Linked DNA regions of Homo sapiens: region 2 is linked to region 1. A link means that fine-mapping ties the variant in region 1 to the expression of a gene that starts in the linked region. Tissue or cell type: whole blood. Region 1 holds a variant in brackets; the other region holds the start of a gene. All regions are shown on one strand. Distances are between the middles of the regions.

Region 1 (7,526 bases):
TCAGGAATTGTGTTGTACCATGTGGTACCATGAATGCCTAGAATAGTGTCTGAGGTCTAGTTGACAGGTCAATAAACAGCAGCTGAGTGGCTATGAGTTTCAGTATGTTATGGGGTTAGAATTATTTCCCCCAAGGGAAAAGACAAAGAGGGGCTCTACCTTTGTCTTTTTTTTTTTTTTTTCTTGAGACGGAGTCTCACTCTGTTGCCCAGGCTGGAGTGCAGTGGCGCGATCTCGGCTCACTGCAAGCTCCGCCTCCCGGGTTCACGCCATTCTCCTGCCTCAGCCTCCTGAGTAGCTGGGACTACAGGCATCCGCCACCACACCCGGCTAATTTTTTTTTGTATTTTTATTAGAGATGGGGTTTCACTGTGTTAGCCAGGATGGTCTCGATCTCCTGACCCTGTGGTCCTCCCACCTTGGCCTCCCAAAGTGCTGGGATTACGGGCGTGAGCCACCGCACCCGGCCTTTTTTTTTTTTTTTTTTTAAGAGAGTCTCACTCTGTCACCCAGGCTGGAGTGCAGTGACAGGATCTTGGCTCACTGCAGCCTCTGCCTCCCCAGTTCAAGCAATTCTCCTCTCCTCAGCTTCCCGAGTAGCTGGGACTACAGGCACCCACCACCACACTCGGCTAATTTTTGTATTTTTAGTAGAGACGGGGTTTCACTGTGTTTGCCAGGCTGGTCTCGAACTCCTGACCTTAAGTGATCTGCCCGCCTCGGCCTCCCAAAGTGCTGGAATTACAGGTGTGAGCCACTGCACCAGGCCGGGCTCTGTCTTTGGTTTTATAATGGAATTAATGAAAAGAAAGAACCTGGCCAGGCGCTGTGGCTCACGCCTGTAATCCCAGCACTTTGGGAGGCCCAGGTGGGCGGATCACGAGGTCAGGAGATGGAGACCATTCTGGCTAACACAGTGAAACCCCATCTCTACTAAAAATACAAAAAATTAGGCGGGCGTGGCGGTGTGCGCCTGTAGTCCCAGCTGCTGGGGAGGCTGCAGGCAGGAGAGTGGCATGAACCCGGGAGGCGGAGCTTGCAGTGAGCTGAGATCCCGCCACTGCACTCCAGCCTGGGCGACAGAGTGAGACTTGGTCTCAAAAAAAAAGAAAAAAAAGTTAGCTGGGCGTAGTGGCGGGTGCCTGTAATCCCAGTTACTTGGGAAGCTGAGGCAGGAGAATCGCTTGAACCTGGGAGGCGGAGGTTGCAGTGAGCCGAGATTGTGCCATTGCACTCCAGCCTGAGCAACAAGAGCAAAACTCCGTCTCAAAAAAAAAGAAAAAAAAAAAAACAAAGAACCTGATTTACAGAAGCCACACTCAGAGCTTGTATTCTGGAGCATTCCGCAAAATGATTTACAGTGCTGGCTCTCTTGCTGCTGGGATGTGTGGACCCTGGGTGAAGATGCAGTCTTTGTAACCCAGAGAGCCTGTGCGTGGGGAGGCCTTTGTCTACCCACTGTCCAACCTCACGCTGTAAGTGGGCCACTTAGCCTGGCATTGCCCTGGAATTGGCACCTGCAGCTAGCTGGCTCCCCAGTTCTGGTCAGACCAGAAGTGGCTTTCTCCTGTGTGACCCACCTGGCCTGTGTAGCCTGCACCAGGGGGTGACCCCATAGGCTGTCTTGCCATCCCACCCCTTGGCCTCTCACTCTCAGAGCCCTCCTGGGGAGGGGGATCAAGGATGTGCCTCCCCATCCTTGGACCCCTGCATGGGAATAACTGGGGAAGTCTGTTACAAATATGGGTTTTCTGCATGTGAACAGTACTTCAGCAGAGAGTCAACAAGATGAAGATTGAGGAGATAATGGGGAAACTTGAATAGTCCCTTGATAATGATTTTAAGGAATCACTGCTTTTTTTTTTAAGGTAGGATAATTGTTTTGTAGTTTGCTTTTTTAAACCAGCTTTATTGAGATAGATTTAGAATGCATACACAAGAATATTTGAAACGTACAGTTTGCTGAGTTTTGATGAGTGTGCACACTGAGTAGTGGCGGGCCCAGTTGTGATGTCGAATATTTCCAAACTCCCAAAATTCCCCTACTGTTGGCCCCTGGCAAAAAGATCTGCTTTCACTCACTCGCTGTGCCTCTTCTAGAATTTCGTGTCGATGGAACCGGATCGAGCTCAGTGCTGGGCCTCGCTCCTGTGTCCCCGTAGCCCTGTATTACCCTGTTCCCTGCACACTGCAGTTTCTCTTCACCAGGCCACAGAGACTTGGGATCTTGTGAATGAAGTTCACAAATGCAGATTTCAATTCATTTAGGACAGAAACGTGAAGTCACTTGCTATTTAATGATATTAGGAATTTGGATGATATTTTAGATGAGATCTTTGTTTTGTGGTTTTTATTTTTATTTGAGACAGGGTCTCGCTTAGTTGGCCAGGCAACTAAGTGGTGCAGTGGTGCAATCATGGTTCTCTGCAGCCCCAACCTTCTGGGCTCAAGGGATTCTCCCACCTCAGCCTCTCGAGTAGCTGGGACTACGAGTGCACGCCTCTGTGCCTGGCTAATGTTAAAAAGATTTTTTGTAGAGACATGATCTCACTTTGTTGCCGAGGCAGGTCTTGAACTCCTGGGCTCAAGTGATCTTCCCACCTCGGCCTCCCAAAGTGCTGGAATTGTGGGCATGAGTCACCATACCCCTCCTTTAGGTTTTTCACAAGGAGCTTTTATCTTTGAGAGGAAATGCAGACATATTTACGATGTCGTACTGGGAAATCCGGGATTTGCTGCAGAATAACCTGGCATGGGGAGCAGGTGGGAGCAGAGACCAGAGGTGCCCTGAGCTGACTGTTTTGGGGCTGCTTGATGGGGACATAGGGGTTCACTCCCTCCTCCCTCTACTCTTGTAAGCATTTGATGTTTACCACAATGAAGAATAAAAAGAAAACCAGGCTCCTGAGCCTCCACCCCAGAGCTACT[G/A]CCTCTAACTCCAGGGGCGGGGAAGGTCAGGGAGGGGTAGGCCCAGGAATCTGCATTTTCCTCGGCCCTCCTGGAGCTTGAGGGCCACTGTCAGAGGAGGGCCAGGCACCTGCCGTGTTGTGCGGTGTGTTGGCCTTCCTCGGCTTCCCCGCAGCCTTCCAGCTCTCCCGGTGCCTGTGAGCCAAGACCTCTCTGCCCAGGTGGAACTCCGCCCAGGTGGAACTCATTCTTCTACTTGCCTGAGGGCCAGCCTGAGTGGTGCGAGGTTTAAGGTCCTGGAGGTGGGAACCCTTATGAGTGTTGCTTGTGGCCCCACCCAGTTCATCCTCTCCCGCAGAGGGGTGGTGGCCCTGTCCTGTTTCCCTGTCTGTGAGTTCAGGCCGAGTCATGGATTCCTTGCATCACTGGTCTTTTGTAGAGAACATCCTGTGATCCAGTTCCGGAAGCCGAGGAGGCGGCTTGCCGGGGGCTGGTGGGGGAGGGGCGGTCCTAGGAGGAGCAGGAGCCTGGTGCTTTCTATCAGGGAGGGATCACACCGGCTCACTGCTGAGCCGGCCAGGCAGACACAGGCTTGGGCTCTGCTGGGCATCATACTTGTCACTGGGTAAACAGTTTGCCCACTTACCGCAGGATGAAGCTGCTTGCCAGGGCTCTCCGGCTCTGTGAGTTTGGGAGGCAGGCATCTTCCAGGAGGCTGGTGGCTGGCCAGGGATGTGTGGGGCCCCGGCGAGGGTGCTGCGCTCCCGTCCAGGTGGTTGGGCCCAGGGCTGATCTCCCACCCTGTGGAGCCTGCATTACTGGAAGGTAGGATGACTGGGAATATTTTGTGCCCATGGTGTCTCACTTGCGACGCCGACTGGGCAGCCAGGGCCTTGGGCCGCATAACTTGGAGGAGTTTTGGGGAGGGTAGTAGGGTCGGGTGTTGGATGAGCTGTGTGTTTTGCTGGATTGAAAGTGCCCACTTAAGTGGCCACCCTCAGTGGAGACCTGGCATGTTCTTCCCCTAGGGACGAGCGGAACACCCGGGCTTTGTTGGAGGAGGTGACCTGGCAACCCTGGGCTGTGGGAATCTGGGCCTCTGCAGATCAAGGCTCCTGCAAGCCAGCAGCTGTGCTGGCTCACAGCTGGCAGCTGGCATCCGTGCCCTGCTTTGTCCCTAGGCTGGATGTTGAGCTGTGATTTTAGACCAGAAGGTTGGTGCAGGGCCAGAGGGAGCTGTTCCTGCACGATTGGCTGATCCTAACAGTGCAGTGTTGAGCTGCTTACAGATGGCTTTTGCATACTTTATTTCTCCTAAACTTTACAGAAACTCTGTTGAGTGGGCATACATACCTCCCCCTTTGTGCCAGCTTTATTGGGTTATAGTTCACATGCCATACAATTCATTCACTAATGTGTACAAGCTAGTAGATTTCAGTTTTATGTTCACAGAGCTGTGGGATCATGACCTCCATCAATTTTGAAAGGGGTGGTAGGAGGATTTTTTGTTCTCCTGACATGGAGCTCCCCAAGCCCTTGGGACCTTTGTAGTCCTAAGAGTGTCTAGTATGCTAATGAGAGAACTGGTGGCTGGGGGCCCTAGATATAGCTTCAGGATGGGAGCTGGTCTCCAGAAAGGCCAAGGGAGGATTAGCGGGTTAGCGCTTTCAACCTTACCTTCCTATACCGCAGAAGGTAGTGCCAGACTTTACTTGAATTGTAGGACACCCACCTAGTGTCGGAGAGTTGGAGAAGTGGGGTTGAAAGAGACACCCATGTTTGTTATTAAAAGCATGAGTAAAAACAGCTCGCCTAGGAATATAATTTTTGGGTCATATGGTAATTTTGTGGTTATTCTCTTGAGGAATTACCAGACTGTTTCCAAAGTGGCTGCACCATTTCACATTCCCACCAGCAGTGTAAAAAGGATTCAATTTCCCCATATCCTTGTCAGCACTTGTTATTATCCATCTTTTGAATTCTAGCCATGCTAGTAGATGTGCAGTGGTATCTCACTGTGGCTTTGATCTACATTTCCCTAATGAGAGAAGATGATACTGAGCATCTTCTCATGTGCTTATTGACCACTGTGTATTTTTAGAGAGCTGTCTAGTCAGGTCTTTCCTGTATTTTCCAATTGGTGTAATTGTCTTTTTGTTGTTGAGTGATGAGAGCTCTTTATATATTCTAGATGCAAGTCCCTTCTCAGATAAAATTTTTTAATTAAGAAAATTTTCCAATTCAAAAAAGTTGTCAGCCTGGGCAACATAGCAAGATCTGATCTCTATTAAAGATTAAAAAATTAGCCAGATGTTGGCTGGGCGTGGTGGCTCACACCTGTAATCCCAGCACTTTGGGAGGCCGAGGCGGGCGGATCACGAGGTCAGGGGATCGAGACCATTCTAGCTAACACAGGGAAACCCCATCTTTACCAAAAATACAAAAAATTAGCCGAGTGTGGTGGCGGGCGCCTGTAGTCCCAGCTACTTGGGATGCTGAGGCAGGAGAATGGCTTGAACCCGGGAGGCGGAGCTTACAGTGAGCCAAGATCGTGCCACTGCACTCCAGCCTGGGCCACGGAGCAAGACTCCGTCTCAAAAGAAAAAAAAATTAGCCAGATGCAGGGTAGGTGGGGTGTGCCTGTAGTCTCAACCACTCAGGAGATTGAGGCAGGAAGATTGCTTGAACCCAGGAAGTTGAGGCTGTAGTGAGCTTATTGCACCACTGCAATCCAGCCTGGACAACAGATCAAGACTCTTGTCTCTCAAAAAAAAAAAAACTGTGTTAAAATACACATAATATATAATTTACCGTTAAAAAAATCTGCCATCAGGCCGGGCGCGGTGACTCACGCCTGTAATCCCAGAACTTTGGGAGGCTGAGGCGGATGGATCACGAGGTCAGGAGATCGAGACCATCCTGGCTAACAAGGTGAAACCCCGTCTCTACTAAAAATACAAAAAATTAGCCAGGCGTCATGGTGGGCGCCTGTAGTCTCAGCTACTTGGGAGGCTGAGGCAGGAGAATGGCATGAACCCGGGAGGCGGAGCTTGCAGTGAGCTGAGATTGCGCCACTACACTCCAGCCTGGGCAACAGAGCAAGACTCCGTCTCAAAAAAAAAAAAAAAATCTGCCATCTTAGCCGGGCATGGTGGCTCACACCTGTATTCCCACCACTTTGGGAGGCCAAGCTGGGTGGATCACCTGAGGTCAGGAGTTGGAGACCAGCCTGGCCAACATGGTGAAACCCCGTCTCTACTACAAATACGAAAAATAGCTGGGCGTGGTAGCCCACGCCTGTAGTCCCAGCTACTTGGGAAACTGAGGCAGGAGAATCACTTGAACCTGGGAGGCGGAGGTTGCAGTGATCCAAGATCGTGACATTGCACTCCAACCTGGGTGACAAGAGCGAAACTCTGTCCAAAAACAAAAAAAAAACAAAAAAACTGCCATCTTAATGATATGTGTATATGTATATGGTTAAGATGGCAGGTTTTGTTTTGTTTTTTAAATTGAGACAGGGTGTTACTCTGTCTTCTGGGGCGCATGTGGTGGTGCAGTCTCGGTCACTGAGCCTCTACCTCAAGTGATCCTCCTGCCTCAGCCACCCGAGTAGCTGGGACCACAGGCATGTGCTACCATACCTGGGTAATTTTTGTAGTTTTTGTAGAGACAGGATTTCGCCATGTTGGCCAGGCTGGTCCCAAACTCCTGAGCTCAAGGGATCTGCCCATCTCCGTCTGCCTCCTAAAGTGCTGGGATTACAGGTGTGAGTCACAGCGCCTGGCTACCATATACGTATTTGTAGCCATATTTTCTTGCTCTGTCACCCACTACGTCTCACTATGTTTCCCAGGCTCATTTTAATCATTTTTAAATGTCCAGCTCAGTTTTTTTGTTTTGTTTTTTGTTTTTGAGACAGAGTCTCGCTCTGTCGCCCAGGCTGGAGTGCGGTGGCACAATCTCGGCTCACTGCAAGCTCCGCCTCCCGGATTCAAGCGATTCTTCTGCCTCAGCCCCCCGCGTAGCTGGGACTACAGGTGCCCGCCACCACGCCCAGCTAATTTTTGTATTTTTAGTAGAGACGGGGTTTCCCCATGTTGGCTAGAATGGTCTTGACCTCGTGATCCGCCTGCCTCGGCCTCCCAAAGTGTTGGGATTACACGCGTGAGCCACCGCGCCCGGCCAAGTCTTGCACTTTCGCCCAGGCTGGAGTGCAGTGGCGCAATCTTGGCTCACTGCAAGCTCCGCCTCCCGGGTTCATGCCATTCTCCTGCCTCAGCCTCCTGAGTAGCTGGGACTACAGGCGCCCACCATCACGCCCAGCTAATTTTTTTTTTGTATTTTTAGTAGAGATGGGGTTTCACCGTGTTAGCCAGGATGGTCTCGATCTCCTGACCTCATGATCCACCTGCCTCGGCCTCCCAAAGTGCTGGGATTACAGGCGTGAGCCACCGCGCCCGGCTCATTCCCTTCCTTTTAAAGACTGAATCATGTTCCATTTCATGGATGGACCACATTTTGCTTATTCCATCATCTGTGGATGGACACTTGGGTTAATCCCACATTTTAGCTTGTGAATAATGCTGCTATGAACACAGCAGAGACCCCGTTTTTAG
Region 2 (7,526 bases), 39 kb before region 1:
CCAGGATGGCCACTGGAGGGATCATTGCCCTGGAGTGCCAGAGAGGCGTGGAAAATCCCAGGCATCCCCCAAAGCCCTGGCCCAGCCCACCCAGAGGACCCCTTAAGAGGGGTGATCTTACTCAGGGTAGTGCTCGACGAGAAGCCTCAGGGAGGGGAAGTCTCCTTTGGCGGCAGCGTAGTGGATAGGCAGGGCGCCCATGTCTGTGGCCGCGGTGGGGTCCCCACCGCCATGATGCAAGAGCCAGTTCACCACCTCGGGGTGGCCGAAGCGGGCAGCCAGATGCAAGACTGTGGCACCAGAATTGTCTTTGTCCTGTGGGAGGAGAGCTGGTTCAAGTCCTAAAGCCTGTTGCTGCCCCGCCCCTGGCTTGGGCCACTCCCAGACTCCCACAGGCCTGGAAGGTAGCTCTGTGCTCTCTGTCTTCCCTGGAGGGATTGGCCAGGCCTCATTCAGCAATGTTTTTTTTGGGTCAAGCGGATCCTGGGTTTGAGTCCTGCTTCTGTCCTTGGGCAACTAACTGGCCCTCTCTGAACCGTAGCCAATAGGCAGCACCGTGCAGGGTTTTCAGAGGCTGCAGGTCCTGACTGCGAGCTGCCTACACGACAGGCACCTGGTTGTCACGGCAGGAGACTGGCACCAGGCCCAGGGCCACAGCCCTGACTCCCAGGGACTCAGGGAATGCCTGAAGGAGTGACACAGGGTTACTGGGCTGAGCAGGGCCAGGAAGGGGGGCTGTGGGGCTGTACCAAGCTAGCATCAGGATTGGGGGTCACCCCCTGCATCCAACACTTGCCCCCGATCTCTCCACCCTTCCTCGGTGTCACGTGGGAACAGAGACCTCCACCTTGGTACGCCTCCAGGAACCCAACCTCAGTGCAGAAAACCGGCCCCTCCCCCAGCAGACTCGCCAGTGCCCAGCCACAGGAGCAGCCTGTGTTCTCGCCCCTGTGGAGGTGGAAGTTGCTGGGTACTGGTGGGCGGGTCCGGGGCAGTCAGCCAGGGGTGCTAGGTGCAGGCTAGTGGTGGCCTCTGGGAGGGCTTGGACAAAACTCCCCCCGGGGACCTCAGAGCAGGTGGGGCCAGAGGTCTGGGCCCAGAACTGCTGAATGTGTCATCAGTGCACACCCCATTGTGTGTGTCTGCTGAGAAAGGGGCTGGAGGGGAGTGCTTACAGGACCTGTGCTGGGAGGAGAATTCCCGGGAACATCTAGACACAGAGGCTGCCGCACTTGGCAGAGTGGGTACTGGTTCGGGAACAGAACCACCTCCCAGCACCAAGCACATAGGATGACAGAGGGGTGGGCAGGGTTCTGGGTGCAGGATGCAGTGGACACACTTCACTAGGATCAGGGAGTAAAGCCTCTCTGCCCCGCCTTGCCCAGAGAGAGGGCACTGTGGTTACAGACTGGCAGAGGCGGCAGGAGCTGGCAAGAGACCCCAGGCCTCAGGAAGTCAAATCACGGTGGGAAGAGAACCTCTGAGGCTCCCGTGAGAAATGCAAGGAAAAGAGGGCACGGAGGGAGCTGGGGGCGCCGGGGCCACTAGTAGGGTCTTCAGGCAGCCTGCGGGGTGGGGGCAATTGTCTGGCTGTCCTGCTAAGGAGGCAGGGAGGAAGATGGGGCAGAGAATGTGATGGCCCATAGGAAGCTGAGGACAACACCGAGGCCCCTCCTGTGTGCTAGAAAGCTGGGAGTGGGGGGGCCAGAGACTGGTTCAGTCTGTCCCCTCCGAGCCCAAAGGTCGGGGCTGGCTAGCGGGCACCCAGGCAGAACCATGGTGAAATGTGACCTAAGCCCCAGCTCCTGAGAAAGGCGCTCCCTTCCTATTGGCCTTGGGGACTGTGGGTCTGAAGCTCCAGGGGTCCCACTGGCTCTGGGCCTCTAAGTGGTGGAAACTGTAAGGAGAGGGCCACAGGCCTGTGGGCTCTGGCCTGTGCCTGTCCAGGCTGTCCAGGTGTCCAGGCCCCAGGAGCCTCGTGCGTGGTGGACCACACCCTAAAGCAGCTTATCTCTCTGGGCTGGGCAAGCCCAAGGATCCAGGTCATCCCCCCCACACTTTCTCCCCCCACACCCAAGCCTGCCCAGCCCAGAGGGCAGGAGACGATAAGCTGGGCCCAAGGCCACCTGCTTCTCCCAGCTCCTCTGCACTGGCCAGAGAGGCTTCTGGCCAGGGCTGGACACTGGATCTGGGAGGCATGCCACCGCCCAAAAGAGTGGGCATGGGCCACTTGGCCAGGAAGCCCTGGTAACAGGGCCCACTGAGAGATAGCAGGTGGGCCATCTCCCAGGAAGGGTGGGAAGAGGGGCTTGCTATCTGAAGGCAGAAGGTGGGGTTGGCCTGGCCATCTTTGGGGCATAGTAAGCCAGTTTAGAGTTACCCTGACTCCTCCCCTTCCATCTCCAGGTCACCCAGTGGTCTAAGTGGAAATCGGTTGTGGTTCCTCCCTCCCATGGCTGCCCCCACACCCAGAATTTCATCCAAATCCCTAACCTCGGCCTATGATACTCTCTGGCCTGGCCCTGGCAGCTTTTCCCTTCCTCACCCACTCTGAACATGATGCCTGAGGCTGGCCCTCCGACAGGACAAGAGCGTGCATGCCTCAGGGCTCTGCACTTCTTGTTCCCTGTGCCTGGAACTGTCCCACCGCTGCCTGGCTACCTGCTTCTCAGCAGCCAGGACTCCCCTTGGAGGTCACTGCTCAGAGTGACCAGGTGGGGTCTGGAGGCAGCAAGAATCAGCCTGGGTTGGAGAAGCAGCTGACAGCTTGACAGCACTGATGTCCTGGGGTCAGCCTGGGTTATGGGGAGACCCCCATTTACCACGGCTCATCACCCTTCCCCCACACCCTGGCTGGGACACCTGAATCTCAGCCTCGGGTGGGCTGTGGGACTTTGCCCAGCCTCCTTTCAGATCCGGTCCTGGAGGACACGGGCGTCTGACTCTGCTGCCCAGGCCTCACGTCCCACCCACTTCCAGGACTACAGGATCAGTGCTTTGCTTCTCCCGGTACACACTAGTAACCACAAGCCCCACGGAGGCCCCTCCCTTCTGGCTCCCATCACCCAGGTGCGCTTCCAGGGAGCACCCAGGCTCGCCAGGGCATCTGCCCCAGTACTGGCAAGCCAGGGAGCCCATTCACTTGAGGGCCTCTGGAAGGAGCTCCGTGCAGGGTTCAGCTGGGCCAGGAGGTGCCAAACCCCACCCATCCTTGAGCCCCGGGGGACTCTGGGCCAGGACTCTGTCCTGAGGAGGAAGCCTCAGTGCCCCTGGCGAACCGCGCGGACCCACCTGCACTCTGCAGCCGCCCTGCGACAGCAGCCACTGCAGGCAGGCGAGGTGGCCGGTGGCGGAGGCGTCGTGGGCCGGTGTGGCGCCGTTGCGGGCGCGGGCCGCGGCGGGGAGGGCGGCTTCCTCCACCAGGAAGCGCAGACAGTGCAGCTTCCCAGCGCGGGCCGCGTGGTGCACGGGCAGCGCGTCCAGCGGGTCGCGCAGCGAGGGCCCCAGGAGGCCTGCGGCGTGCAGCGACCTCAGCACGTCCAGCTCGCCCTGCCGCGCCGCCTGCAGCGCCTGCTCCAGGGCCATGGTGCCGCGTGCGGCGCCGCGACTCCGCACTCAGCGCCTTCCCCAGGACGCCATGCACGTGTTCTTGCGGGCCAGAGGAGCCCGCGGTGCGGCCGTCGGGGATCTGCGGGCCGGGAGGCGGAGCGGCTGTGGGCCTGGCCTCCGCTCCGCGCTGCCTGGCGCTCCGCTCCGCCGCGCTCTGGGGCCGGAGCCCGCGGACGCCGGCTTAAGACTCGGGCCCGCCCCCACCCCGCCCCGCCCCGCCCCGCAGCCTCCGCCCGAGTTCCCCGCCCGCCCCCGCCGCGACGCGGGGACACTCGTGCGACTGGGGCAAGGTGCCCAGGGGCTTCTCTCCTAATTTGCCTCACGTAACAGTTGAGACCCCAGAGGGCAGCAAAACTGGGTTCGAATTGGAGAGCCGTCCAGGCACAGACAAATTCATTCATCTGCCCAGTGCCCGCTAACTGCGGTTCCAGGCGCCGGCGACGCAATTCCAGAGGTGATGGGGAGTGATTGTCGGGACCGCGTGGGCGGACAGGGAAAGGTCTCTGAGGAGGTGCCGTGGGGCTGGGTTTGAGCGGCGAGAAGGGTATTCCAGGCGGGGTGAGGAGCACGAGGACAACGGCCCTGAGGCAGGAGCAGCCCTGCCACGTCCCTGAAGGGCTCTGGGTCGAAATCCCCGGAGATTGCAAAGAGCCCTGCCTTCCAGGGTCCCTCCAGATCCGAGAACTGCCCCCAGAGGTTCCAGCGGGGAGGGCAGGAAGGCAGGACGGGAACCACTAGTGCGCTGGGAACGCCATGGCCTCAGGCCGCCCGCAGCCGCTGTCGGTGTGGAGGGGCTTCCAGCCACACAGAAGGCAGGGATGGGTGGGAGGTTAGGGCTTGTGGGGAGACGCGGGAGCGCCGGCATCCAGAGAGAGGGGGCTGAGACCCCTGCAGGGGCTCAGGAAAGTGCCAGAGGGCGCGGGCAGGAGAGCGAATGTGTGCCAAGCCACCCTGCAGGCTCCACTGAACACCAGCCGTGGGAGCGGCTAGTGCCCAAAGGACGCGAGGAAAAGCTGACAGAAGGTGGGAGCTACATGGCTGTGGGAGTGCAGGCGGCCTATCAGCGATCTTGAAGCACCCTGTGCCCTTCCTGTCCCAACACCCACCCCCTCTGGAGTCCCGTGGGGGCTTGGCCCCACCCCGGGCTGAAGGTTTCACTCCGCCCCAGCCCCAGCCTGGCACAGTCAGCACTGGAAATGCTGTAGAATGAAGGAAGCCCCTTCCAGGAACAGTGGGAGTCATAGTGCTAAACTCATAGTGCTAAACTCGGCAGCTGCCTCCGGTCCTTTCCCTGGGCCTGCCACCTAGTGGCGACCTGCGTGATGGCCTCCCGCGCTCCCAGGTGCCCAGGTAACTGGAGCTGCTGGGCTGTGCCTAGCCAGGTGGGTTTCCAACGACTTCCACCAGGCCAGATCGCCCTCACTCTCTCCATGGGACCTGTGGCCGCTGGAATCTGGGACGCTTGCCCAGTGGTTTGCAGACAAAAGGAAGGAGGAGTCATTTCCTCGCAGCCTCGCTGCTGGAGCTGGTGGCCAAAGCAACAGGCTCACTGCGGCTGGCGCTGCCCTCCTCTGGGTGCCCAGAGGCAGGTGTGCCGTGAGGCCAGCAAGTGGCAGGGGTACTGTTGGGAGGAGGTGCTAAAATGGCTTGTCTTGGGCACCCCTCCCCTGGGCCTCCTCCATTCCAAAAGGCCCTGCAATTTGTGTTCTCCACTCCTAAGGTGGCCACCTTGGTCATGGACGAGCTCATCTAGCACATGGTTTTGTGATTTTGTGGGCCAGGGCTAGGTGATGCTTTATTGCTATTCCAGTGGGCTGAGCAGATGCCCCTGAGCCCCTGCCACTGTTGTTAATGACATCTCCATTAGTGCCACATGTGAGCACCCACCCCTGCTGACCAACCTCTCAGACTCCTTTCGGGACATGACTCAAACTCAGGCTGTGAGCCAGGCCCTTCCTGCCAGGCTTCTGTCCTCTCCGGGCTCTCCCATGTCCACCGGGCCAATTGGGTCCTCCCCAGCAGCCCTAGGGAGCTCACGGCAGCAGTAGCACTTTTATGAAATCTGTACCACCCACCAAGTGCTCACCATGCTTCACATGGATATTTAATCCAGAGGTGCTATGAGAGAGGTACAACTATTGTTCCCAGTTCACAGTCGGGGATAATGAGGCATGGAGAGATAGGGAGGGTTTTTTTTCTTTTTTTCTTTTTTTTTTTTTTGAGACAAGTCTTGCTCTGTCGCCCAGGCTGGAGTGCAGTGGCACAATCTCAGCTCACTGCAAGCTCCGCCTCCCAGGCTCACGCCATTTTTCTGCCTCAGCCTCCCGAGTAGCTGGGACTACAGGTGCCTGCCACCACGCCCAGCTAATTTTTTGTATTTTTAGTAGAGACGGGGTTTCATTGTGTTAGCCAGGATGGTCTCGATCTCCTGACCTCGTGATCTGCCCACCTTGGCCTCCCGAAGTGCTAGGATTACAGGCGTGAGCCACTGTGCCCGGCCTGTTTGTTTGTTTTTTGAGATGGAGTTTCACTCTTGTCACCCAGGCTGGATTGCAATGGCATAATCTAGGCTCACTGCAACTTCTGCCTCCCAGGTTCAAGTGATTCTCTTGCCTCAGCCTCCCAAGTAGCTGAGATTACAGGTGTCTGCCCGCCACCATGCCTAGCTAATTTTTTTATTTTTTGTATTTTTAGTAGAGATGGGGTTTCATCATGTTGGCCAGGCTGGTCTCGAATTCCTGACCTCAAGTAATCTGCCCACCTTGGTCTCTCAAAGTGCTGAGATTACAGGCATGAGCCACCACGCCCAGCCTTGTTTTGTTTTTTTAAAGCATTTTGCCTGAGATGACACAGATGGGAAGTGGCAAAGCTTTCACTCCCTGGCTGAGCCTTCTGGGCTCTTCTTTCCTCTCCACCCAAGGTTCCTTCTGCCCACAGCACCCCTAGAGTCTCCCACCCTCCAGCTATCAGCTTAGGGATTCTCTCCCCAGGAGGGCTTCTCTCACCCCTCTGCTGGGCTCACCCCAGCCCACCCCAGGTTTCTCCTCAACCCAAGGGCCAGGGCACTTCCCAAGAATAGGGACCAGGGGTGGAGTGTATCCTTACTGTATCCTAGGTGGTCCCAGTTCCCCTAAAGCCTGCACCCGACATTTGCCCACCTAGCTGTCTTTAACGTTCCTCTGATTCCAGACCACTCCTTCCAAGTAACCAGCAAAACCTGAAAATCCTTGAGTTGAAGAGAACTGTGGGTTACTTGGTTAAAGTCCTTTACCCAATGGGAGAGTAGAGGAAGAAATATTTTTAACTGGGGGTAACTGGCAATGGAAATGGTGTTTGCTCCCCTGCCATTCAGTCTTCAAATGGTGGTCCGCAAACCTGGAGGGGGATGTTCTAAGGGGAGCCTCCTCCTTCAGCCTTTTTCTCCCAGGAGCTAGGGTCAGTCCCTCCCCAAGATGCAGATGCTGCAGGCGGACTTGTGGGTGCAGACCTGAGTCAGCCAAGCTAAGTCGCTTGGCCTGGGGATGAGAGGGAAAAGATCCACAGAGTTTTTTGAGCTCTTAAAGAACAATTAATTGTCTTAGGGGAGGCCTATGGAGTCAAACTGGCCTCAACCACGGAGAACAAGGTCTCAGGTTCCTCCAAGCCCTGCTGGGCCAAATCTGTTGAAGGATTTATTCTTACTTGTTAGGTCTTTTATGAGGGTTAATGCAGGTTAGCGAGCCTTAAAGCGTTAAGCCCTGAGCTTGGCACACAGTAAGTGTCCATGAAAGGTGGCCTACATTCCTTCCCATGCCACAGATAGGTATGGGTGGCCTGGGCTCCCCTGGCCCAGGCTTCTCCGGGCCCCTCAGTGTGTTCGCTGGCCTTCTTCCACCCTGCGGCGAGAACCCTGAAGGAGGGAGACGTGGGGCTAGCGG

What was found. PIP is the estimated chance that this variant, and not a neighbour inherited with it, causes the effect.
Region 2: ESPN starts here. The variant in region 1 is fine-mapped to the expression of ESPN in whole blood (TOPMed, PIP 0.94).

What each region holds. Positions count from the first base shown.
Region 1 is chr1:6,381,700-6,389,225 of GRCh38, reverse strand. The region is part of intron 1 of ACOT7 (acyl-CoA thioesterase 7); the gene reads left to right. Among named protein-coding and RNA genes, the nearest start is that of ACOT7, 8.3 kb to the left of the region's middle. RefSeq lists an enhancer at 2,476-3,461. The variant G/A (reference allele first, on the strand shown) is at 2,929.
Region 2 is chr1:6,421,015-6,428,540 of GRCh38, reverse strand. It overlaps ESPN (espin), which reads right to left and starts at 3,765. Exons shown (of 13, transcript NM_031475.3): 1 at 3,292-3,765; 2 at 122-315. The coding sequence starts at 3,585. RefSeq lists silencers at 3,586-3,635, 3,666-3,825 and enhancers at 3,822-4,435, 4,436-5,050.